5 separate regions of the Homo sapiens genome follow, and all the other regions are linked to region 4. The links come from fine-mapping of genetic effects on plasma protein levels. A gene starts in region 4. Each other region holds a variant in brackets. All regions are shown on one strand. Distances are from middle to middle.

Region 1 (5,272 bases), 240 kb before region 4:
CTTGGTAGAAGCTCAAAAAGTGACATCCAGTTGGGGATAAAGAAAGGCTTTTTTTTTTTTTTGAGACGGAGTTTCACTCTTGTTGCCCAGGCTGGAGTGCAATGTGCGATCTCGGCTCACTGCAACCTCCGACTCCCGGGTTCAAGCAATTCTCCCACCTCAGCCTCCTGAGTAGGTGGGACTACAGGCATGCGCCACCACACCCGGCTAATTTTGTATTTTTAGTAGAGACAGGGTTTCGCCGTGTTGGTCAGGCTGGTCTTGAACTCCTGACCTCAGGTGATCCACCCGCCTCGGCCTCCCAAAGTGCTCGGATTACAGGCGTGAGCCACTGCACCTGGCCGAGAAAGGCTTTTTGTAAGAGCTATTTTCAGAGATGGGCCATTAAGGAGGAGCAGAATTTCAAGCAGCAGAAATGAGAAAAGGAAATTCCAGAAAGAGAGAGGCAACACGATAATTTTGGGAAAGCACTACTTTAAAAACAAGGTTGGTTCACTTCTAGGTCAATGGACAGTTTTGTCCTCTTGAACAAGTTAGCCTCTCAGAAGTTTAACTTCTCCTCTGTAAAATGAGGATAATAATATCTACCTCATAGAGTTGTGAAGATTAAATAATAATGCACAAAGAGTCTAGCACACTCATTGGCATATAATTGGCATCCAATTAATGTTAGCTAGGACTATTAGGATCATTAAGCAAGTCAACAGTGCAGAGGGTGACAAGCATAGATGATCTGGAAATATGAGGAAAACTAGTTGCTTAGAGTATAAGGTTCTTGTGTGAGGATAGCAAAGATGAAACTGCAAAGATAGAGCAATGCTTTTGTTTTGTACAGCATCTGAAATACTGGAATAAGGACTTTGGTTCAAATTAGTAGGCAATATGGAAGTATTGAAGAGTTTTGACACAGAAAATATTTTTGTTTGTTTTTATTTTTTTAGAAGGAAGGTCTTAGTCTGTCACCCAGGCTGGAGTGCAGTGGCAACCTCCTGCGCTCAAGGGATCCTCCTGCCTCAGCTTCTCAAGTAGCTGGGACTACAGGGGTGTACACTGTGTCTGGCTTTTATTTTTTGCAGAGACAGGGTCTCACTATGTTGCCCAGGCTGGTCTTGAGAACTCCTGGCTTCAAGGGATCCTCCCTCCCTTGGCTTCCCAAAATGCTGGGATTAAAGGTGTGAGCCACAGTGCTGAAACAGGAAATAGATCTATAATTATATAATAATATATTTTAAAAATATTATTCCATATCTATATCTATATTTATCTATATCTCTATCTATCTATCTCTATCTATATCTTTTGAGATGGAGTCTCATTCTATCACCCAGGCTGGAGTGCAGTGACATGATCACGACTCACTGCAGCTTTGACTTCCTGGGCTCAAACAATCCTCCTACCTCAGCCTCCAGAGTAGCTGGGACCACAGGCGCATGCCACCACACCCAGCTAAATTTTGTATTTTTTGTAGAGATGGGACCTTGCCATGTTACCCAGGCTGGTCATGAACTCCTGGGCTCAAGCAATCCTCCCGCCTCAGCCTCCCAAAGTGCTGGGATTACAGGCGCGAGCCACTGCACCTGGTCAAAACAGGAAATCTTTTGATCAGAACTCTGCTTTTGGAAAAGCGATGAGGGCTTAGACCTGTGTGGTCGAATGCAGTAGCCATTAACTGCAAGAAGCTATTGAGCACTTGAGATGTGACACTGAAAAGTTCAAATTGAGATGTGCTGTAAGTATAAAATACAAAACTGGATTTTTTTTTCTGAAACAGCTTTTTATTAAATGGCAAAGCAGAATTGCAGCACAATTTAAATGTCTGTAAATTAGGTCACAAAAGGGATGCAAAATGTTTGCAGTTTGAATATTCTAATTCATACAGGTAAAGTCATTCATCAACTCTTACACCAATACATAAGATTATTCCATGATTAAAAGTAGCCCAAATCTAATAACCATAGGCTATATTAGTGGATCTCTTTTCCTATTATAAGATTTTAGCATTACTTCTGATACTGATTTCTTTACCAAATGGAACCTATAAATTTTTAAAATTTGAGGCCAGGCTGGGCGTGGTGGCTCATGCCTGTAATCCCAGCACTTTGGGAGGCCATGGTGGGCAGATCGCTTGAGTCTAGGAGTTTGAGACCAGCCTCGGCCACATGATGAAACCCCGTCGCTACAGAAAATAAAAAAATTAACCAGGTGTGATGGCACGTGCCTTTAGTCCCAGCTACTTGGGAAGCTGAGGTGGGAGAATTGCTTGATCTTGGGAGGCAGAGGTTGCAGTGAGCCGAGATTGTGCCACTACACTCCAGCCTGGATGACAGAGGAAGACCCTGTCTCAAAAAATAAATAAAATAAGATAAAACTTGTTAAAGGATAATAACAAAGGATGACTGCAAATCAAGTAGTTGAGTTGACAGAAAATTCTGAGAGAACAAGTAAGATAAAATACTGAGAAGATTGTCAATAAGCATATATGCGAAACACTCCTATTTCATTCACAATTCTAATACTACTGCACTGCGAAGGAATTTTGCAAAAGTTGATCTGCTGGGTACAAATAAATCTAGAGACCAAACTCTTTGTAACTGTTCTCTTCTAGATGTGGCTTACATAAAGTTAGTCAAACTTAATCCACTTCCGTATATATTTCCCAAAAGATCTACTCTGTGCCAGGGATAACAAAATCTGGAGTGAAAATATTCACAGTTCGTCACTACTGTTTACCAAGTACTTTTTCACCCTATTTCTATTTTTCCTCTAAATTTTGTATTTTAAACATACACTTGACCAACTTATCTTTCCAGATAAGATGAAGTGAGTTACTTTGTGCAAAAA[C/A]AAATTTTTAACAACAAATCTTCCTAAGTTGACAATTCAGCCTCAAAGAAAAATCTTTATTTTTATAGCTTCCCTCTGTTTTAAATGGATTAAAGAGAAACCAGCATTCTTGTCTTAATACTAAATATAAAAAATGACAAGCCCTAGCTGTTTCTCAGATACAGATACTTTCTGTATCTTATTTTGGTTAAGTTTCAACAATTAAAGTGCAGGTTACTCTCTGAGATGATTAACTATTAAAATGACTTTTACAAATGTGAAACCAATTCTTTCCTTCGAGGAAGGTAAAGAGGAAGAGGCAAGTGGAGAAGAGGCATAAGATGACGGACAGGGTACATGAGGCTACGCATTCAGTGTATGATTCCGGTCACTTTTTCACAACGTGTGGTTATTTTTCTTGTATATCTTAGTAAGCCTCTAATAAAAGACAGTGCTAAATCTACAAATCAAGGAAAATTTGATAAAACATTCATCTTTAAGTTTCATAAATATATGCAATTCTTTTTTTTTAAATGCAGTCTCGCTCTGTCACCAAGGCTGGAGTGCAACGGAGCAACCTCAGCTCACTGCAGCCTCCACCTCCCAGGTTCAAGCAATTCCCCTGCCTCGGCCTGCCGAATAGCTGGGATTACAGGCATAAGCCACCACGCCTGGCTAATTATTTTGTATTTTTAGTAGGAATGGGGTTTCACCATGTTGCCAGGCTGGTCTCGAACTCCTGACCTCAGGCAATCCACATGCCTCCGCCTCCCAAAGTTCTGGGATTACAGGCATGTGCCACTGCACCTGGCCAATATGTGCAACTGTAATGATAAAGTTTCTACAATTCATTTGCATGTTTTCCTTTTTTTTTTTTTTAATTTATTTTTTTATTGATAATTCTTGGGTGTTTCTCACAGAGGGGGATTTGGCAGGGTCATGGGACAATAGTGGAGGGAAGGTCAGCAGATAAACAAGTGAACAAAGGTCTCTGGTTTTCCTAGGCAGAGGACCCTGCGGCCTTCCGCAGTGTTTGTGTCCCTGGGTACTTGAGATTAGGGAGTGGTGATGACTCTTAACGAGCATGCTGCCTTCAAGCATCTGTTTAACAAAGCACATCTTGCACCGCCCTTAATCCATTTAACCCTGAGTGGACACAGCACATGTTTCAGAGAGCACAGGGTTGGGGGTAAGGTCACAGATCAACAGGATCCCAAGGCAGAAGAATTTTTCTTAGTACAGAACAAAATGAAAAGTCTCCCATGTCTACTTCTTTCTACACAGACACGGCAACCATCCGATTTCTCAATCTTTTCCCCACCTTTCCCACCTTTCTATTCCACAAAGCCGCCATTGTCATCCTGGCCTGTTCTCAATGAGCGGTTGGGCACACCTCCCAGACAGGGTGGTGGCCGGGCAGAGGGGCTCCTCACTTCCCAGTAGGGGCGGCCGGGCAGAGGCGCCCCTCACCTCCCGGACGGGGCGGCTGGCCGGGCGGGGGGCTGACCCCCCCACCTCCCTCCCGGACGGGGCGGCTGGCCGGGCAGGGGGCTGACCTCCCACCTCCCTCCCGGACGGGGTGGCTGCCGGGCGGAGACGCTCCTCACTTCCCAGATGGGGTGGCTGCCGGGCGGAGAGGCTCCTCACTTCTCAGACGGGGCGGCTGCCGGGCGGAGGGGCTCCTCACTTCTCAGACGTGGCGGCCGGGCAGAGACGCTCCTCACCTCCCAGAGGGGGTCTCGGCCGGGCAGAGGCGCTCCTCACATCCCAGATGGGGCGGCGGGGCAGAGGCGCTCCCCACATCTCAGACGATGGGCGGCCGGGCAGAGACGCTCCTCACTTCCTAGATGTGATGGCGGCCGGGAAGAGGCGCTCCTCACTTCCTAGATGGGATGGCGGCCGGGAAGAGGCGCTCCTCACTTCCTAGATGGGATGGCGGCCGGGAAGAGGCGCTCCTCACTTCCTAGATGGGATGGCGGCCGGGAAGAGGCGCTCCTCACTTCCTAGATGGGATGGCGGCCGGGCGGAGACGCTCCTCACTTTCCAGACTGGGCAGCCAGGCAGAGGGGCTCCTCACATCCCAGACGATGGGCGGCCAGGCAGAGACACTCCTCACTTCCCAGACAGGGTGGCGGCCGGGCAGAGGCTGCAATCTCGGCACTTTGGGAGGCCAAGGCAGGCGGCTGGGAGGTGGAGGTTGTAGCGAGCCGAGATCACACCACTGCACTTCAGCCTGGGCACCATTGAGCACTGAGTGAACGAGACTCCGTCTGCAATCCCGGCACCTCGGGAGGCCGAGGCTGGCGGATCACTTGCGGTTAGGGGCTGGAGACTGGCCCGGCCAACACAGCGAAACCCCGTCTCCACCAAAACCAGTCAGGCGTGGCGGCGCGTGCCTGCAATCGCAGGCACTCGGCAGGCTGAGGCAGGAGAATCAGGCAGGGAGGTTGCA
Region 2 (3,279 bases), 860 kb before region 4:
AGTTTAGGAACTCTGAGTAGGTACAGAAGAAATAGTAAACACAGTTTATCTTCAGGGTTTCCATGCAGGAGAAAAACATAAAAGAACATGTCCACAAGTAGACTAGCCGGGAACATGTGCATATTCTAAGGGAGTGTCTGTCTCCTGAACGTGCCCTTTGGAAATTGACAGAAAAGGCTTTATTTTTCTTAGTTAGAGAACATGGATTATTCTTAGACTTTCTGTCCCTTCCTATTTTTAAAGTAATAGCTAAACCTATCACAAACATAGCCCAGCATTACAAAGTCAGGAAAATAATTTGATTTCTATGCATTTGAGAAAACTTTTTTTTTTTAATTTAAAAATTTTTGTTGCTACCTTTTTTTTTAAGGCCTCTCAGTTGTTCACTTCATTCTTAGCCTTATTTTCCCTCCTATGTGACTCAGGTGTGTCAATATCGCTCCTCACTCTACTCTGAGGTAGATGTCCATTTTCGGATGATCCATGAGGATACCCGGCATCTGCTCTGCCCTTATTGCCTGAAGGTCTTCAAAAATGGCAATGCATTCCAACAGCATTACATGAGGCACCAGGTACTAGGCACCAAGCAATTCCCATATTCTCTTGTTTTTTTTTTTTTTAAACATGGATGCTGGGGCCAGGGCTGAGCTAGGCAAATAATTTGGGCAGAGATTATAATATGCATATGTTTGCAGAAATTTATTGAATTCACTTAATGTGCCATGTACTAGTCTAGATGCTAGAGATTTAGTAGTAAACAAGGCAAACAATACAATAAAACATGAAGAGTACTGTGTTGGGGAAATTATAGGATATAGAAAATCACATAGCTATTCTGGGTGCCTAGTAAGGCTTCCAGAAAGAAGTGTTGTTCAATACCTGAGGGATGAATAAGAATGAGCCAGATGAAATAAGACGAAGAACAGTGTGCCCAAGGCACAAAGCAAAATTGTGGAGGTTCAAGAAATTGAGAGAGATTCAGTGTAGGGTGTAAGAGACAGAGGGGTTGGAAGTTAGGCAGGGACAGATCATGGAGGATCTTTTAAGCCATGAAAAGAATTCACTGGGAAGCCACTAAAGGGGTTTTAAGCCCTGGAGTGATGTGTTCAGCTTTAGTTAAGGCTTTATACTGCCTGCACTGCAGAGAATGGATTAAAGGAGATTGAGACTACAGTTAGGGAAACTAGCTAGAAGGCCTTTTTCAGTAGTTTAGGTGAGAGATGATAGTGGCTATTGGCTTTTGAAATAAAAAGAGGGTAGAGTTGAGAGATATTCAGAAGATTTGTGATATTTATGATGTAGAGATGGATTAGGTGAAGGTAGCAATGCAGTAGTTAAGAATAGTGCCTAAGATTCTGTCTTGGGCAGTTGGGTGAATGAGGGAACTATTTGCTGAAATAGAAACAATAGAGAAAGTATATTTGTGAGGGGGGAGATCATGAGCTTGGATATTGTAAGTTAGCAGTATCTGTGGATGTCAAGTGTAGCTGTTGGATAATAGATCTCAAGCCTGTGAGAGAACTCTGGGTTGTAGAAAAGATTTAGGAATCAGCGTTATATAAATCCTATAGATTTTAAACTTAAATACCATGGGCCCCCCAACCCTGTTGAGAATAAGAGAAGGCTTAGGATATTTGAAGTCCCTTATCTATAAAGCAACCACCATAGTACTAGGAGGAAAACCAGAAGAGTCTTAACCTTAAGGAAACTGGGGAGAAGAAAGTGTTTTAAAGAAAAGGGTGTGATCAAAATGTCATATGTTACAGGAAGGTGTCAAGCAACATAGAGACTTAGAAACAGGCCTTTAATTTAGCAACATTGATGAGAGCCATTTTGTTGGTTGGTAGGGTGGAAGTCACATTTCAGCAGAACAAATGAATGAGAGGTAAGGAAATGAAGACGATGTATTTAAAGAAGTTTATTTATAAAAAGGGAGGACCCAGGGTAGGTAAATCCAGAGGAAGAAGTGGCAAAGAAGAGTTTTTTATTGCTTTTATTTTCCTTATAAGATGAAAAGCTATGACTTCGTTTTAAAATACTACAAGAAGAGAGCCACTAGAGGAGAGTGAAAGGTATATAGTATATAAGAGAGGATTCAAAATGGAGAATAAGATGAGTGCATGTGTGCTTAATAGTCACATACATATGCACACAAACATATGTACCCTATTACACTCATAGTCTCCTTTGCACAGTAGTGACTGCTGATTGTCTACCACAACTGTATTTCCAAATAGGGGCATGGAAATTGTCTCTTAGCCTAAGCTTACAGAGCTTTGTTATCCTACTAAAGAAAATCATAGACATGGGTTCTATTTTTGAAGGACTTCAATACTAGGCAGACTGAATCCTCAAAGTGGTCTCACCAGGAGACATATCTGTATATACTGATGTGTTAAGTGAGAAAACAGCAAGGTATAGACAAGTGCTATCATTTGTGTTAAAAGGAGAAAAAGAAGAGGGCTGAGGTGGGAGGATCACTTGAGCCCAGGAGGTGGAGTCCAGCCTGGGCAACATGGTGAGACAACATCTCTACAAAAAGGAAAGGGAAAAAAGTAAGGGCCAGGCACAGTGATGCACGCCTGTAATCCCAACACTTTGGGAGGCCAAGGCAGGTAGATCACTTGAACCCAGGAGTTGAAGACCAGCCTGGGCAACATGGTGACACCCCGTCTCTACAAAAAAATACAAAAAGTAGCCGGGCGTGGTGGCACGTGCCTGTAGTCCCAGCTACTTGGGACGTGCAGTGAGCTATGAACATGCCACTGCACTCCAGCCTGGGCTACAGAGAGAGACCCTGTCTCAAAAAAAGGGGGCGAGGCAGGTA[A/G]TGATTGGATATGAATGTATTTGTGATACAGTTATATGTGTAGACTGCCCACGAAAGCATACTCAGGAAACTGGTAATAAGTTGTTTGTATGGAAGGGGACTGAGTGTTGGAGTTGAAAGCAAAGTTGGAAGAGTATAGAAAAAAAAGTATGACTTTAGTTTACTATGTACATTGTCCTTTTTTAAAAAAAGAAGAATGAAGAATGTCCAGAAGAATGTCCAGTTGTCAGCAGTGTAAAGATATAATACAAATAAAGGTTACATCACTCATTCAAATTGTTAAAACAAGTCAGGAAAGGATGATTTGAGAACTTAGTCATCCTGGACTAGAATCCATCTTTCTTTGATATCATGGGAGGTGATGATTCTCAATGGTAGGTTTTGTGGTCATGTTGCATATTTCTTTCTTACTCTCTTAAATTATCAACAGAAAGGTGGGAAGAATGATATGG
Region 3 (5,272 bases), 88 kb before region 4:
AGTTATTTTTTAATGAACAATTATTTTTTACTATAGTCACCCTGTTGTGATAGCAAATACTAGATCTTACTTTTCTTTCTATATTTTGTGTACCCATTAACCATCCCCTCTTTACCCGCATCGCAAAGAATGCATTTCAATCGGGTATATATACCTAGGAGAGGGATTGCAAGGTCATGGGTTTTGGATTATGTACAGCTTTAGTATATATTGCCACCAGCTTTCCAAAGTATGTTGTACCAATTTATACCCCAACCAGCCATACTGCAGGTCTTTGGAACTGTCAAGTCATATATTTATGAGCATATGATTGTGCTGAGCAGAAGTCTGGATAAATAAAAGCCACTGTTAATTCCTGTGACCTTGCTTTAATTTTATAGAAACTGAGCTGCATTGGTTGGTTTCAGGGGATCTATGTACATCCTAAAATACGTATAATATTGCATGTATGTATTTGTGCTTAAGCACATTTGGGGGACAGAAGAACCATAGTTTATACCAGATTCTCAAAGATCAGATTTGGAAAAACTGGTGGCAATATATACTAAAGTAAACATAATGCAATACTTTACGCACACCACCCCCACCCCAACAAAAAAAAAGTTAAAAAGCTTAATAATGACTGCTTTATGGGAGTCCAACAATCAAGAAGCTATTATTACTCAGGAATACTTTGCTTGTTATTAGCAAATACTGTTCCAGGTTGGTGGTGGTCTGTTGACACAGACACCCAGTCCAAACAGCCAGGTTTCCTGTGGTTAACAGAGAAGGATTAGAACTCTTGACTACTTAATTTTCCTTTTATTTCTAGTAGGTTAAAATCTTTTATTAAAATAGCTTCTGGTGTGGGGGGGAATAGCTTCATAATGCTTTTTATAATTATATATTTTCAATAACTATATTTTTAGAATAGATTCATTGCGATTATAATTCACATACCATACAGTATACCCATTTAAAGTGAATAGTGGTCAGGTGCAGTGGCTCACGCCTGTAATCCCAGCACTTTGGGAGGCCGAGGCGGGTGAATCGCCTAAGGTCAGGAGTTCAAGACCAGCCTGGCCCATATGGTGATACCCCATCTCTACTAAAAATACAAAAAGTAGCCGGACGTGGTGGCGGGCGCCTGTAATCCCAGCTACTCCGGAGGCTGAGGCAGGAGAATGGCTTGAACCTGGGAGGCAGAGGTTGCAGTGAGCTGAGATCGTGCCACTGCACTCCACCCGCCTCAGCCTCCTGAAGTGCTGGGATTACAGGCTTAAGGTACTGCGCCTGACCATTTATTTTTATTAACAAATAATATTCCAATGTATGGATATACCATAGTTTATCCATCAATTGATGGACCTGGTAACTATTTTAAATTATGTCTGTATAGAATATAATGTGTCCATAGCAAAATCTATATTTTCCCTCCTAAACCTTCTACTTAAGGCCTCCCCGTCTCAGTAAACAATGTTATCATTCACCTAGTTGCTCAGACCCAAAACTTTGAAATCATCCTTGAGTCTGCAAATGCTGTTGGTGGTACCTTTAAAATAGATCCCACATCTAGCCATTTTCAACCATCTCCATAGCTACTACACCCTAGTCCAAGTCACTGTCATCTCTTACCTGAACTATTGTAAAAGCCTAATTGGTTTCCTGCTACTACTTCCACTCTGGGTCCCCATGGAGCAGCGGAAGGATCAGTTTAATACCTAAATGATTTTGTGTCAGTCCCCTCCTCAACACCATCTGATGGGTGCCCATTACACAAAAAATAAAATCCAAGTTCTTACCATGACCTAAGAAGCCAAAAACAATCTCATCCCTGCCTGCATCTCTTCTCTTATTCCGGCTCTTAGCTACATTGACCTTCTTGCTGTTTCTCAAATACACCAAAAATATGCTTTTGCTTTAGGAGCTTTGGATTTGCTCTTCCCTCTGCCTGAACCAGTTTCCCTCCAGATAACTGTTGGCTCACTCCCCAACCAGATTTCTGCTCAGATACCTCAGGTCTTCCCCCAATCACCCGATCTATGGCCCAAAGTGGTGGCTCACACCTGTAATCCCAGCACTTTGGGAGGCAGATGGATCACTTAACGTCAGGAGTTCAAGACCAGCCTGGCCAACATGGTGAAACCCCGTCTCTACTAAAAATACAAAAATTACTATATATATACCTCTTCCCGCCCAGTCACAAATAGAATAATCTGGGCCCCAGACATTGTGCTAGTTTTTGTGAAACCTCACTCATATTTTACAGGCTGAAAGTTCCACCCTTCCTAATGCTCAGTAATTTAGCTATATCAAGGATAAATGGGCTGGGCACGGTGACTCATGCCTGTAATCTCAGAACTTTGGGAGGCCCAGATGGGTGGATCACCTGAGGTCAGGAGTTCAAGACCAACCTGGCCAACAGGGTGAAACCCCGCCTCTACTAAAAACACAAAAATTAGCCAGACATGGTGGCGCGCACCTGCAATCCCAGCTACTCAGGAGGCTGAGTGAAGGGGTGGCCTGCCCCTCCACACTTGTGGGCATTTCTTGTCAGGTGGAATGAGAGACTTAAGAAAAGAAGGAGACACAGAGACAAAGTATAGAGAAAGAAAAGTGGGCTTAGGGAAGTGGCGCTCAGCATACAGTGGACCCGCACCGGCACCAGTCTCTGAGTTCCCTCAGTATTTATTGATCATTATTGGGCGTTTCTCGGAGAGGGGGATGTGGCAGGACAATAGGGTAATAGTGGAGAGAAGGTCAGCAGGAAAACATGTGAACAAACGTCTCCGCATCATAAACAAGGTAAAGAAAAAAGTGCTGTGCTTTTGATGTGCATACACATAAACATCTCAATGCCTTAAAGAGCAGTATTGCTGCCAGCATGTCCCACATCCAGCCCTAAGGCGGTTTTCCCCATCTCAGTAGATGGAACATACAATCGGGTTTTACACCGAGACATCCCATTGCCCAGGGACGAGCAGGAGACAGATGCCTTCCTCTTATCTCAACTGCAAAGAGGCCTTCCTTCCTCTTTTACTAATCCTCCTCAGCACAGACCCTTTACGGGTGTTGGGCTGGGGGA[C/T]GGTCAGGTCTTTCCCGGCCAGCATATTTCAGACTATCACATGGGGAGAAACCTTGGACAATACCTGGCTTTCCTAGGCAGAGGTCCCTGCGGCCTTCCGCAGCGTATTGTCTCTGGGTACTTGAGATTAGGGAGTGATGATGACTCTTAACAAGCATGCTGCCTTCAAGCATTTGTTTAACAAAGCACATCCTGCACAGCCCTTAATCCATTTAACCCTGAGTTGACACAGCACGTGTTTCAGGGAGCACAGGGTTGGGGGTAGGGTTACAGATTAACAGCATCTCAAGGCAGAATAATTTTTCTTAGTACAGAACAAAATGGAGTCTCTTATGTCTACTTCTTTCTACACAGACACAGTAACAGTCTGATCTCTCTTTTCCCCACATTTCCCCATTTCCTTTTCGACAAACCACCATCATCATCATGGCTTGTTCTCGATGGTCGCTGTCTCTTCGGAGCTGCTGGGTACACCTGCAGACTAACAACAGATAAAACAGGCACACAAGGATTAATACGAAATTTATAATAGTAGTACTTCCGATGGTCTTAACCCAAGTGACAGGGTTAAGATTTGCGAGGCCATCAGTCACTCCTGCGATTGCCTCAGTTTCTGGTACCAAATTTAAATGGGCTTTTGATGCTTCGAAAATTGGTTCTCTATCTTAAGAGGAGACTCAGACTTAAATAGTAAGAGAATATTAACCCCAGAGGCAATAAAAGAAATTAAATTAGTGGAACAAAAAATTCAGTCAGTGCAAATAAATAGAATAGATCCCTTAGCCCCACTCCAACTTTTGGTTTTTGCTACTGCACATTCTCCAACAGGCATCACTGTTCAAAATACTGATCTTGTGGAGTGGTCATTCCTTCCTCACAGTACAATTAAGACTTTTACATTGTACTTGGATCAAATAGCTACATTAATTGGTCAGGCAAGATTACAAATAATAAAATTGTGTGTAAATGACCCAGACAAAATAGTTGTCCCTTGAACCAAGGAACAAGTTAGACAAGCCTTTATCAATTCTGGTGCATGGCAGATTGGTCTTGCTAATTTTGTGGGAATTATTGATCATCATTACCCAAAAACAAAAATCTTCCAGTTTTTAAAATTAACTACTTGGATTCTACCTAAAATTACCAGACGTGAACCTTTAGAAAATGCTCTGACAGTGTTTACTGATGGTTCCAGCAATGGAAAAGCGGCTTACACAGGGCCAAAAGAGCAAGTAATCAAAACTCAATATCAATTGGCTCGAAGGGCAGAGTTGGTTGCAGTCATTACAGTGTTACAAGATTTTGATCAACCTATCAATATTGTATCAGATTCTGCATATGTAGTACAGGCTACAAGGGATGTAAAGACAGCTCTAATTAAATATAGCATGGATGATCAGTTAAACCAGCTATTCAATTTATTACAACAAACTGTAAGAAAAAGAAATTTCCCATTTTATATTACTCATATTCGAGCACACACTAATTTACCAGGGCCTTTGACTAAAGCAAATGAACCAGCTGACTTACTGGTATCATCTGCATTCATAAAAGCACAAAAATTTCATGCTTTGACTCATGTAAATGCAGCAGGATTAAAAAACAAATTTGATGTCACATGGAAACAGGCAAAAGATATTGTACGACATTGCACCCAGTGTCAAGTCCTACACCTGCCCACTCAAGAGGCAGGAGTTAATCCCAGGGGTCTGTGTCCTAATGCATTACGGCAAATGGATGTCACGCATGTACCTTCATTTGGAAGATTATTATATGTTCATGTAACAGTTGATACTTATTCACATTTCATATGGGCAACCTGCCAGACAGGAGAAAGTACTTCCCATGTTAAAAAACATTTATTACCTTGTTTTGCTGTAATGAGAGTTCCAGAAAAAATTAAAACTGACAATGGGGCAGGATACTGTAGTAAAGCTTTCCAAAAATTCTTAAGTCAGTGGAAAATTTCACATACAACAGGAATTCCTTATAATTCCCAAGGACAGGCCATAGTTGAAAGAACTAATAGAACACTCAAAACTCAATTAGTTAAATAAAAAGAAGGGGGAGACAGTAAGGAATGTACCACGCCTCAGATGCAACTTAATCTAGCACTTTATATTTTTTAAACATTTATAGAAATCAGACTACTACTTCTGCAGAACAACATCTTACTGGTAAAAAGAACAGCCCACATGAAGGAAAACT
Region 4 (5,248 bases):
CCCTCTCCACGGGTCTACCCAGTACACATAATCCCATCCCGAGCTGGGTTTGGCTTTGGCAGTTCCCTGGAGAAGTGAGGGGTGGGGGTGACGTGAGCTCCCGGGGCCCGGGCCAGGCCTGGCTCCCTCTCTGGAAAAGTCCCACCCCACCCTCCCCTGCGCAGCCCGGCAGGGGCCCATGCCCCCTCCTCTGCAGAAACACACGCACATTTATGCTTCTCACCCCTTTCCATGTCCCTCATTTGGTGTCGTTCCCGGCCCAGGACGAGGAAAGGAGAGGTCAGAGGTGGTCACTCTGGTGCCAGAGTAGACCCTGGTCTGGACAAACGCGGGCTCCTCCTGGCCACACCTCTCCACACTGCCCAGTGAAGACCAAGGAACAGAGACCTGCGCAGGGCTCACCCCTTCACCCCCAGGTCTCCCTGCTGGAGAGTGGTTGGACCCTGTGTTTCTGGGCCTAGCCATGGAGAATCCCTGTCCTGAGTCCGAATTCCCGGGCCCTCAGAGCCCTCCACTCCTGGGTCTGGCAGGCCACCCCAACAGGTGTCTTTCTTTTTTGTCAACCTCTTCTGCCATCGGGCTGAGCTGGATCAAGGGCACCCACCTGCGTCCCTCGCGGCGACCCTGTCCTCCAAGTTCAGGAGTGCAGTGGGGGACACACCGTCCGAGAGCACCCTCCTAGAGAGAGGGCAGGAGGCACCGGCCGCGCGGGGAGGTCATGGGTCTGTTTTCCAACTTTACTATGTGACTTAGGAGGAATTTTGGTTCACTCCCCGCCCGGGTGATGGGGCCAGAGTTCCACGGGATCAGACTCCCTCCCCAGGAATTCGACCCCAGGGGCTGGAAGATTGTCCGAGGCCACCGGAGCTGGGTCCGGGGTCGTGGCGGGGTCGCGACCGCACAGCGCAGGGAGAGGGGACGACGCGGGCGCGCGGGGCGGGCGGTCTAACGGGACCCGGGAGAGGGGCGGCCGGGGCCGGGGTCCCGGGGAGGTCTCTACCTGCTCTGCGAGCCCCCGGTGGCCCGTTAACCCTTCTGCGCCCAGGCGCTCTCTCCAGGCAACCTCGCTCCGCGGCGGCCACTGGGGCCCCTGAGCCGCGCTCCGGTCACGGCCGCCTCGGCCGCAACTCCGCCCTCGCGCCCGCCCCCGCCCAGCCCCGCCCGCCACGCGCCCCAGCCCGCGCCCCTCGGCGGCCCCGGGGTGGGGCCGGTCTGCCTCGCAGCCCCACTCGCCAGGACCACCCACCCCGGGCTGCGCGCCGGGCGCCCCCCGACGGCTGCGTGAGCTGAAGCCCGGGCTGGCCCAGCCGGGGTCGGAGGCTGCAGTCGCTCCCGGGCGCTGTCCTCGTGCCCGGCCGAGACTAGGGACTTAAGCAGCCCGGGCTGGCCCAGCCGGGGTCAGAGGCTGCAGTCGCTCCCGGGCGCTGTCCTCGTGCCCGGCTGAGACTAGGGACTTAAGCAACCCGGGCCTCCGAGCCGCTCGGGTGAGCGGTGCGAACACGGCGCGGCGCGGCGCGGCACAGGCGGGGCAGCCTCCAGGGGCGCCTGGAGCGAGGCGGCCTGGGAGAGCCGCTGGTCCGGGAGGGAAGCGCCCTGGACGGAGGTACCCGCGGCCCCCGATCCGCGTGGGTCCAGGCTCTCCCCTCCACGCAGCCTCCCCTGCAAACTCAGTCACTCCTGCCTCTCCCGTGTTGGGCAGTGGTGGTTCAGATTGCTGGGACTTCTATGAGCTTCGGTTTTTTTCCTCAGTAAGGTTTTACACTCGGGACTCAGCGAAAGGACAGCGTGCTGACTTCTGAGTCAGACTGATCTGGATTTGAACCTCAGCTCCAGCTCTTGCCAGCTATGTGGTCTTCGACGAATACTTCCACCCCTGTGTGGTGCAGTTTGCTCATCTGCAAAATGGGACTAATCTAATATATATGATGGGCTTGGATATGTCTCTTTATGCATTTATACATGGAAGAATGCACCCCAAACTCAGTAGTATTGGTGACATCTGGGGAGGGATGCAGGGTTGGGGGAGGACTGAAAAAGGCTTTTGCTTTTTACTCTGCGTTATGTTTATTATTATTATATTATTATTTATTTATTTTTTTTGAGACGGAGTCTCACTCTGTCGTCCAGGCTGGAGTGCAGTGGTGCTATCTTGGCTCACTGCAAGCTCCGCCTCCCAGGTTCACGCCATTCTCCTGCCCTAGCCTCCTGAGTAGCTGGGACTACAGGCGTCTGCCACCACGCCCGGCTAATTTTTTGTATTTTTAGTAGAGACGGGGTTTCATCGTGTTAGCCAGAATGGTCTCGATCTCCTGACCTCGTGATCCGTCCGCCTCGGCCTCCCAAAGTGCTGGGATTACAGGCGTGAGCCACCGCACCCAGCTATGTAATGTTATTTTTGTGAATTTTTTTAACCACAAGAGCAATCCATCTATTAGTTTTATCTTTTTTTTTTCTTTTTTTTTTTGAGATGGAGTTTCACTCTTGTTGCCCAGGCTGGAGTGCAGTGGCGCGATCTCGGCTCACTGCAACCTCCGCCTCCCAGGTTCAAGTGATTCTCCTGCCTCAGCCTCCCAAGTAGCTGGGATTAGAGGCATGCGCCACCATGCCTGGCTTATTTTATATTTTTTAGTAGAGACGGGATTTCTCCATGTTAGTCAGGCTAGCCTCCAACTCCCGACCTCAAGTGATCCTCCTGCCTCGGCCTCCCAAAGTTCTGGGATTATAGGCGTGAGCCACCGCGCCTGGCTATTATTTATTATAAATAATATATGTAAGCTGGGCATGGTGGTGAAAGCCTGTAGTCCTAGCTACTCAGGAGGCTGAGCGGGGAGGATTGCTTGAGCCCAGGAGTTTGAGGCTGCAGTGAACTATGATCGTGCCACTGCACTCCAGCCCCTGCGACAGAGAGAGACCTCGTCTCAAAAAATAAACACATAAATAAATAAAATATGTAAAATGGCTGGCATAGAGTAGACAATAAATGGTCACTGCTATTTTTATATTTTACTTTTTTTTTTTTGAGAAGGAGTCTTGTCCTGTCACCCAGGCTGGAGTGCAATGGCGCCATCTCAGCTCACTGCAACCTCTGCCTCCTGGGTTCAAGCCATTCTCCTGCCTCAGCCTCCTGAGTAGGTGGGATTGCAGGCACGAGCCACCACGCCTGGCTAATTTTTTGTATCTTTAGTAGAGATGGGGTTTCACCATGTTGGCCAGGCTGGTCTCGAACTCCTGACCTCATGATCCGTCCGCCTCAGCCTCCCAAAGTGCTGGGATTACAGACATGAGCCACTGCTCCCGGCCTATATTTTTACTTTCTATTTACTGACGCGTTGTATTTTGTTGGGTCTACTCAGTGTTTTAAAGGTTTTTGTTTGTTTGTTTTTTGTTTTTAAGACAGGCTAGTTTCAAACTCCTGGGCTCAAGAAATCCTCCTTCCTTGGGCTCCTAAAATGCCGGGATTACATGTGTGAGCCACTGGGCCCAACCTAAAGGCACATTTTTTTTTTTTAAATAACTTGTCAATACGTATTTTAAAACCTGGATATTTTAAAATTTCTCTTGAAAAACTAAAACACAAAAATAGAAGCTCTAACAACATTGTCCTGCATCCTCACAAAATATCAGAGGTCTTTGGTTCCCCACCTGTCATTTTTTGGGCGCCTTTTGCACTTGGTGTTGAAGAAGCAGCAAGAAGTCTCTGGCCTCAAGGAGTTGGGTCTGATCAGGCACAGACACGGCAGGTAATGGGGTCATGCGAAGGTTAATACTGGGCTCAGCTGAAGGAGATGTTATCTCTAAGAAGATGATGGATATGAAAACGTAAAATGCTTTCAAAATGTAGGAATTGGGCCGGGCGCGGTGGCTCATGCCTGCAATCCCAGCACCTTCGGAGGCCAAGGCGGGCGGATCATCTGAGGTCAGGAGTTCAAGACCAGCCTAGCCAACATGGCGAAACCCCATCTCTACTAAAAATACAAAAATTAGCCGGGTGTGGTGGTGGGCGTTTGTAATCCCAGCTACTCAGGAGGCTGAGACAGGGAGAATTGCTTGAACCTGGCAGGCGGAGGTTGCATTGAGCTGAGATCATGCCACTGCACTCCAGCTTAGGTGACAGAGCGAGACTCTGCCTCAAAAAAATAAAGAAAAGAAAAGAAAATGTAAGAATTGTGTCCCGAGCTGGGTACAATTGCAGGCACCTGTAGTCCTGGCGATTCGGGAGGCTGAAGTGGGAGGATCACTTGAGGCCAAGAGTTCAAGTCCAGCCTGGGCAACATGGCAAGACCCCATATCTAAAAAAAAAAAAAGAAGAAGAAAAAAGAAAGGAGAAAAAGAATTGTATCATTATTTGAAATTTAACATGCATATTTTTTCTCGGTAAATCACTAAGTTCTTTCAGAATAAAGGACTATTTATGCTACTTTGTATCATCTATACTTTTTCCTATTTTATATTAGAGTTTTGTTTTTTTGATAAGTCACTGAAACAACAACAACAACTTGAAAACACGAAGTACACCACGAAACATGAAGCGGGTCAGATTGACCTGCGCCTCTGGGAGGTGCCTCTCCTCATCCTCCATCTGAGTCCTGAGTTCCTACATGGGTTGAGAAGATAAAAGGTTAATGCCCCTCCCAGAGGGGTGGTTTATCTAGGGACTCCTGGTGACAACCTGGAGACATATTTATAGTGCTAGCTTTGAAGGGGAAGCCCCTTTCCCCAGACCTCAGAGTATGATATAGATGATGAGAAGCCCAGCCTTCCGGGCAGAGGAAGATATTTTGGGCCAGGGACCCTTCAGTCCTGGCCCAGTCACACCTCATCAGCATTCACTTATCTACAGGGAGGGAAGCTGCAGGACAGGAGTGTGGGAGGGGAGCCTGGGAGGAGAGAAAAGGTCTGCCTTTGACATTTGTAACTGCTGAGAACTGAAGGTCAGATACAGTCCTTTCCACTAAGAAATGGCTGCTCACCGAAGAGCTCATGAGATTTGCTACTGCTGTCACCTCTCATGGCTTGGTGGTCTGAAAATATTGTAGAAAGAAAAGAGTTTCCTATGCCTCAGCAACTTGTGAAATACCAGATTAAGTTTGTGGACACTGTCTCCAGGATAAAAAGTTTTTAGGCTGGGTGCGGTGTCTCACACCTGTAATCCCAGCACTTTGGGAGGCTGAGGTGGGTAGATTGCTTAAGCCCAGGAATTTGACACCAGCCTGGGCAACATAGCAAGACCCTGTCTCAAAAATAAACA
Region 5 (5,244 bases), 210 kb after region 4:
ATAACAGGACCTTGTGTACAGTTACTTATCTCTCTTGGATTTAAAAATTTTAATTAATGAATGAGTACCATCCTTCCCACTAAAACCATAGCTTTACTAAAAGGTATTAACTTGAGTCTTAAACTCAGCTGATTAAAAACTGTTTTTTTAAAAAGGTACTAAAACAAACTCACAGATCAAAGCCATTGGGGATTATGTAAGAGTCCCACCACTCAATTTCAGGAATATCTCCTTCCTTTAGCTCCTTCTTAGGAGCAATGAGGGCAAGCCTAGTCGAAGTATGGATGCCTGTTTTTCGAGCTGCTTGTGAAATCTCTGCCTGTAGCTTCTCCAGTTGAGCCTAAAAACAAGATAATCCAAGACAGAAAGATAAATTGGAGTCATAGAAAACAGAATGTGTAGAATCTCAATTTTTTTTTTTTTTTGAGACGGAGTTTCGTTCTTCTTGCCCAGGCTGGAGTGCAATGGCATGGTCTTGGCTAACAGCAACCTCTACCTTCCAGGTTTAAGCGATTCTCCTGCCTAAGCCTCCTCAGTAGCTGGGATTACAGGCATGTGCCACCACCCTCAGCTAATTTTGTATTTTTAGTAGAGATGGGGTTTCTCCACGTTGCTCAGCCTGGTCTCAAACTCCCGACCTCAGGTGATCTGCCCGCCTCGGCCTCCCAAAGTGATGGGATTACAGGCATGAGCCACTGTGCCCGGCCAGAATCCCAAATATTTTTTTTTTTTTTTGTAGACGGAGTCTCACTCTGTCACCCAGGCTGCAGTGCAGTGCAGTGTAAGCTCCACCTCCCGGGTTCACGCCATTCTCCTGACTCAGCCTCCCGAGTAGCTGGGACTACAGGCGCCCATCACCACGCCCGGCTCATTTTTTTGTATTTTTAGTAGAGAAGTGGTTTCACCATGTTAGCCAGGATGGTCTCGATCTCCTGACCTAGTGATTCGCCCACCTCGGCCAAGAATCCCAAATTTTAAAACACTTCCCCGTTGAACTCTTTACACCTAACGCAACAAGTTCATAATTTCTGAAAGCTTAGAAAGGAGTTGTTCTGCTTTATTTTATCCTTTATTTAGTTCATATACATAGATCTCACCTTCAACCCCTCCCTGCACTCCACAGTATATGCCTGCAGTAAATACGCAGAAATAGAATTTTATGGCCGGGTGTGGTGGCTCACGCCTGTAATCCCAGCACTTTGAGAGGCCGAGGCGGGAGGATCATGAGGTCAGGAGATCGAGACCATCCTGGCTAACACGGTGAAACCCCGTCTCTACTAAAAATACAAAAAAATTAGCCGGGCGTGGTGGCGGGCGCCTATAGTCCCAGCTACTCAGCAGGCTGAGGCAGGAGAATGGCATGAACCTGGAAGGCGGAGCTTTCAGTGAGCTGAGATCGTGCCACTGCACTGCAGCCTGGGTGACAGAGCGAGACTCCGTCTCAAAAAAAAAAAAAAAAGGAATTTTATGAAAACCTCACTTTGAGAGGATAAAAAGGCGGCAAAGGTCATTCAATATACAATCAATTCAACTCTCCAGGTGTACTGTCTCATTAAATTTTAACTACAGGCAAGCCTTCCTTAGTCACTCAGAATGTTTCAAATTGTTTCCCTCCACTTAGTTGTATGTGGAGAATTTTCAAACTCAATTTCATAATATTTCCACTTATGTAGAAACGAATTAGGAAGTAAAATCTGCTAAAAAAATTATGTATTATATTAATAAATATATATATATATTTTTTGAGACGGAGTTTCGCTCTTTTGCCCATGCTGGAGTGCAGTGGTGCGATCTCAGCTCACTGCAACCTCTGCCTTCCAGTTTCAAGTGATTCTCCTGACTCAGCCTCCCAAGTAGCTAGGATTACAGGCACCCACCACCACGCTCGGTTAATTTTTGTACTTTTAGTAGAGACGGGGTTTCACCATGTTGGGCAGGCTGGTCTTGAACTCCTGACCTCGTGATCCACCCACCTCGGCCTCCCAAAGCGCTGGGATTACAGGCTTGAGCCATCTTGTCCAGCACATTTTTCAAAGTATTCATTGCTTTAAATCAGGGGTCCCCAACCCAACAGTCTTTTAGGAACTGGGCTGCACAACAGGAGGTGAGCAGCAGGCAAGCCAACAGTCTCATCTGTACTTACGATTGCTCCCTATTACCTGCATTATGGCCTGAGCTCCACCTCCTGTCAGATCATCGGTGGCATGAGATTCTCA[G/T]AGGAGCGCGAACCCTATTGTGAACTGTACATGTGAGGGGGCTATGTTGCACATTCCTTATGAGAATCTAATGCCTGATGATCTGTCACTGTCTCCCATCACACCCAAATGGGACCATTTCAGCAGGAAAACAAGCTCAAGGCTCCCAGTGATTTTATATTATGGTGAGTTATATAATTATTTCATCATATATTACAATAAAATAATAATAGAAATAGGCCAGCACAGTGGCTCACGCCTATAATCCCAGCACTTTGGGAGGTCAAGGCAGGCAGATCACAAGGTCAGGAGTTTAAGACCAGCCGGGCCAACATAGTGAAACCCTGTCTCTACTAAAAATACAAAAAATTCGTCAGGCATGGCGGCGCATGCCTGCAGTCCCAGCTACTCAGGAGGCTGAGGCAGGAGAATTGCTTGAACCCAGGAGGCAGAGGTTGCAGTGAGCTGAGACTGTACCACTGCACTCCAGCCCAGGTAACAGTGCAAGACTCCATCCCCCTCCCCGCCCAAAAAAAAAAAAGGCGGGGGCGGTGGCTCACGCCTGTAATCCCAGCACTTTGGGAGGACAAAGTGGGCAGATCACCTGAGGTCAGGAGTTCGAGACCAGCCTGACCAACACGGAGAAACCCCGTCTCCACCAAAAATACAAAATTAGCCAGGCGTGGTGGCACATGCCTGTGATCCCAGCTACTCGGGAGGCTGAGGCAGGAGAATCACTTGAACCTGGGAGGCAAAGGTTGCAGCAAGCCGAGATCGCCCCATTGCACTCCAGCCTGGGCAACAAGAGCGACACTCCATCTCGAAAAAAATAATAATAATAAAGTACACAATAAATGCTATGTGCTTGAACCATCACGAAACCATCCTTACTCCAGGGGAAAAATTATCTTCCATGAAACAAGTCCCTGGTGCCAAAAAGGTTGAGGACTGCTGCTTTAAATGACCTATTTATCTAATTTCCTAGAACACAGAGATTTAACAATGTTTTCTTGTCAGCTTCTTAACTTTTTCCAAATTCTGTGTTATACTCTAAGCCAGATACCTTTGTCCGTAATCGCTGAGCAATCTTCTCAAATTTGCCCTTGTCATGGAATTTAAAAGTGCGTCTCTGGCGCTGGGAAGGGGCAATGGAGACTCGGGGGTCAAAAAAGGTATTGGATTCCATGTCTTCTGATGGCTTTTCCTTTAGTTGTTGCTTGAATTGTTCCCTCTTCACAGCACGAATATTGGCTTTCAGAGTAGGCATGCGGTGTGTCAGCTCAATCTCCTTGCCTGTTGCATCTACAGTGCGCCCTTGCTCATCCAGGATCAGTGGTGTAGGTTTCGTTTGGTCTTTTAACTCCACCTTCCTGAAAAATAGCCCGCAAAGAAATAAATCCTGTATGGAACATTAAGGCAAGCAAAAAACAAAATAAAGCCAGGCGTGGTGGCTCAAGCCTGGAACCACAGCATTTTGGGAGGCCAAGGCAGAGGGATCACTTGAGCCCAGGAGTTAAAGACCAGTCTGGCCAACACAAGGAGACTGCATCTCAACAAAAAATTTAAAATTAGCTGGGTGCGGTGGCATATACCTGTGGTCCCACCTACTCAGGAGGTTGAGGAGGATCACTTGAGCCCAGGAAGTTGAGGCTGCAGTGCCTTCTCTATAAGAGTTATTTGGATGGACGGGTGTGGTGGCTCACACTGTAATCCCAGCACTTTGGGAGGCTGAGGCGGGTGGATGGCTTGAGCCCAGGAGTTCAAGACCAGCCTTGGCAACACAGTGAAACCCCATCTCTACAAAAAATACAAAATTTAGACGGGCACTTGTAGTCCCAGCTACTGAACCTGGGAGGCAGAGGTTGCAGGGAGCCGAGATCACTGCACTCCAGCCTGGGTGACAGAGTGAGACTCCCTCTCAACAACAACAACAACAAAAAGGACAATAAAATAATTCTAGGGAACAATCTCATCAGTGAGCAATACCATCTTTTTTTTTGAGACATGGTCTCACTCTGCTGCCCAGGCTAAAGTACAGTGGCACAATCACAGCTCATTGCAACCTCAACCTCCCAGGCCCAAAGAAATTCTCCCACCTCAGCCTCCTAAGTAGCTGGAACTACACGCATGCTCTACCATGCCTGGCTAATTTTTGTATATTTTAGAGAGATGGGGTTTTGCCATGTTGCCTAGGCTGGTCTTGAACTCCTGAGCTCAAGCAATCTGCCAGTCTCGGCCTCCCAAAGTGCTGGGATTACAGGTGTGAGCCACCGCGCCCTGCCAATAGTATCTTGATTAAAAATATCAAAGTGGATATTTCAGTATACAGGACAACCAAATGAAATGAGTTTATAAATTATATGAATTTATAATCCTATCTTTCCTTATCCCTGAATTCTTATGTCACTCATGGGATGCCAGACCAACTGTAGATGCTAAAAAAAATGTAACATCTTTGACCAGTTGCAGAGGAACCTCAGATCTAGTCTCACACAATGTGGTTTAATGGATAAATCTGAGTTTGAAACCAGGAAGGAAACCTGGCTATACTCCTAGCTCCAACATTAGATGAATAACCTTAATCTCAGTTATATAAATCATAAGAAGATAATAAACCCTCCAACAGGGAAGACGAGAAAAAATTCAACTGGTTAATCAATCACACCTAAGAAATATGAAACTGTGAGAAATGATCTAGGTTCTGTGGAAAAAGAGGATCAGTAATATTTTGTTTGTTGTTTTCTTTGAGCCGGAGTCTCCCTCTGTCACCCACGCAGTGGCACGATCTCAGCTCACTGCAACCTCTGCCTCCTGTGTTCAAGCGATTCTCCTGCCTCAGCCTCCCGAGTAGCTGGGATTACAGGCATGCACCACCACGCCTGGCTAATTTTTGTATTTTTAGTAGAGATGGGTTTTCACCATATTGGCCAGGCTGGTCTCGAACTCCTGACTCCTGACCTCAGGTGATCCACCTACCTCAGCCTCCCAAAGTGCTACGATTACAGGCCTGAGGCACTGCGCCCAGCCAGATCAGTAACATTCAAAGGTA

Direction of the effects. Alleles are on the strand shown, and positions count from the first base shown. The strength of an association depends on the size of the effect and on how common the allele is.
As copies of C replace A in region 1, the plasma level of the protein whose gene starts at base 1,092 in region 4 goes up (moderate association).
In carriers of allele A in region 2, the plasma level of the protein whose gene starts at base 1,092 in region 4 tends to be higher than with G alone (moderate association).
In carriers of allele C in region 3, the plasma level of the protein whose gene starts at base 1,092 in region 4 tends to be higher than with T alone (moderate association).
With allele T in place of G in region 5, the plasma level of the protein whose gene starts at base 1,092 in region 4 is higher (strong association).

The links. PIP is the posterior inclusion probability: the model's chance that the variant is causal. Protein levels are from antibody-based Olink assays in UK Biobank. Linkage for the fine-mapping came from a reference panel and not from the study's own genotypes, which makes the PIPs less certain.
Region 1: its variant is fine-mapped to the plasma level of the ADAMTSL4 protein (UK Biobank, PIP above 0.99).
Region 2: its variant is fine-mapped to the plasma level of the ADAMTSL4 protein (UK Biobank, PIP above 0.99).
Region 3: its variant is fine-mapped to the plasma level of the ADAMTSL4 protein (UK Biobank, PIP above 0.99).
Region 5: its variant is fine-mapped to the plasma level of the ADAMTSL4 protein (UK Biobank, PIP above 0.99).

What each region holds. Positions count from the first base shown.
Region 1 is chr1:150,780,963-150,786,234 of GRCh38, reverse strand. It overlaps the pseudogene LOC100132571. Among named protein-coding and RNA genes, the nearest start is that of CTSS, 18 kb to the right of the region's middle. RefSeq lists enhancers at 3,647-4,503, 4,504-5,272. The variant C/A (reference allele first, on the strand shown) is at 2,842.
Region 2 is chr1:151,408,918-151,412,196 of GRCh38, reverse strand. POGZ (pogo transposable element derived with ZNF domain) reads left to right here. Exons shown (of 19, transcript NM_015100.4): 12 at 426-572. Among named protein-coding and RNA genes, the nearest start is that of PSMB4, 11 kb to the right of the region's middle. The variant A/G (reference allele first, on the strand shown) is at 2,828.
Region 3 is chr1:150,633,104-150,638,375 of GRCh38, reverse strand. It overlaps LOC112268239 (a long non-coding RNA gene), which reads right to left. Exons shown (of 2, transcript XR_007066603.1): 2 at 2,650-3,545. Among named protein-coding and RNA genes, the nearest start is that of ENSA, 6.1 kb to the right of the region's middle. RefSeq lists enhancers at 1-340, 1,485-2,109, 2,110-2,735, 2,736-3,361, 3,362-3,987. The variant C/T (reference allele first, on the strand shown) is at 3,065.
Region 4 is chr1:150,545,252-150,550,499 of GRCh38, reverse strand. ADAMTSL4 (ADAMTS like 4) reads right to left here and starts at 1,092. Exons shown (of 19, transcript NM_019032.6): 1 at 1,001-1,092; 2 at 605-678. It overlaps LOC124904417, which reads right to left and starts at 210. Exons shown (of 1, transcript XM_047438226.1): 1 at 1-210. The coding sequence starts at 210. ADAMTSL4-AS2 (ADAMTSL4 antisense RNA 2) reads left to right here. Exons shown (of 6, transcript NR_187269.1): 6 at 1,750-1,936. RefSeq lists silencers at 1,222-1,361, 1,532-1,681, 1,613-1,907 and a cis regulatory region at 4,380-5,099.
Region 5 is chr1:150,333,256-150,338,499 of GRCh38, reverse strand. PRPF3 (pre-mRNA processing factor 3) reads right to left here. Exons shown (of 16, transcript NM_004698.4): 7 at 3,259-3,565; 8 at 174-340. Among named protein-coding and RNA genes, the nearest start is that of PRPF3, 14 kb to the right of the region's middle. The variant G/T (reference allele first, on the strand shown) is at 2,217.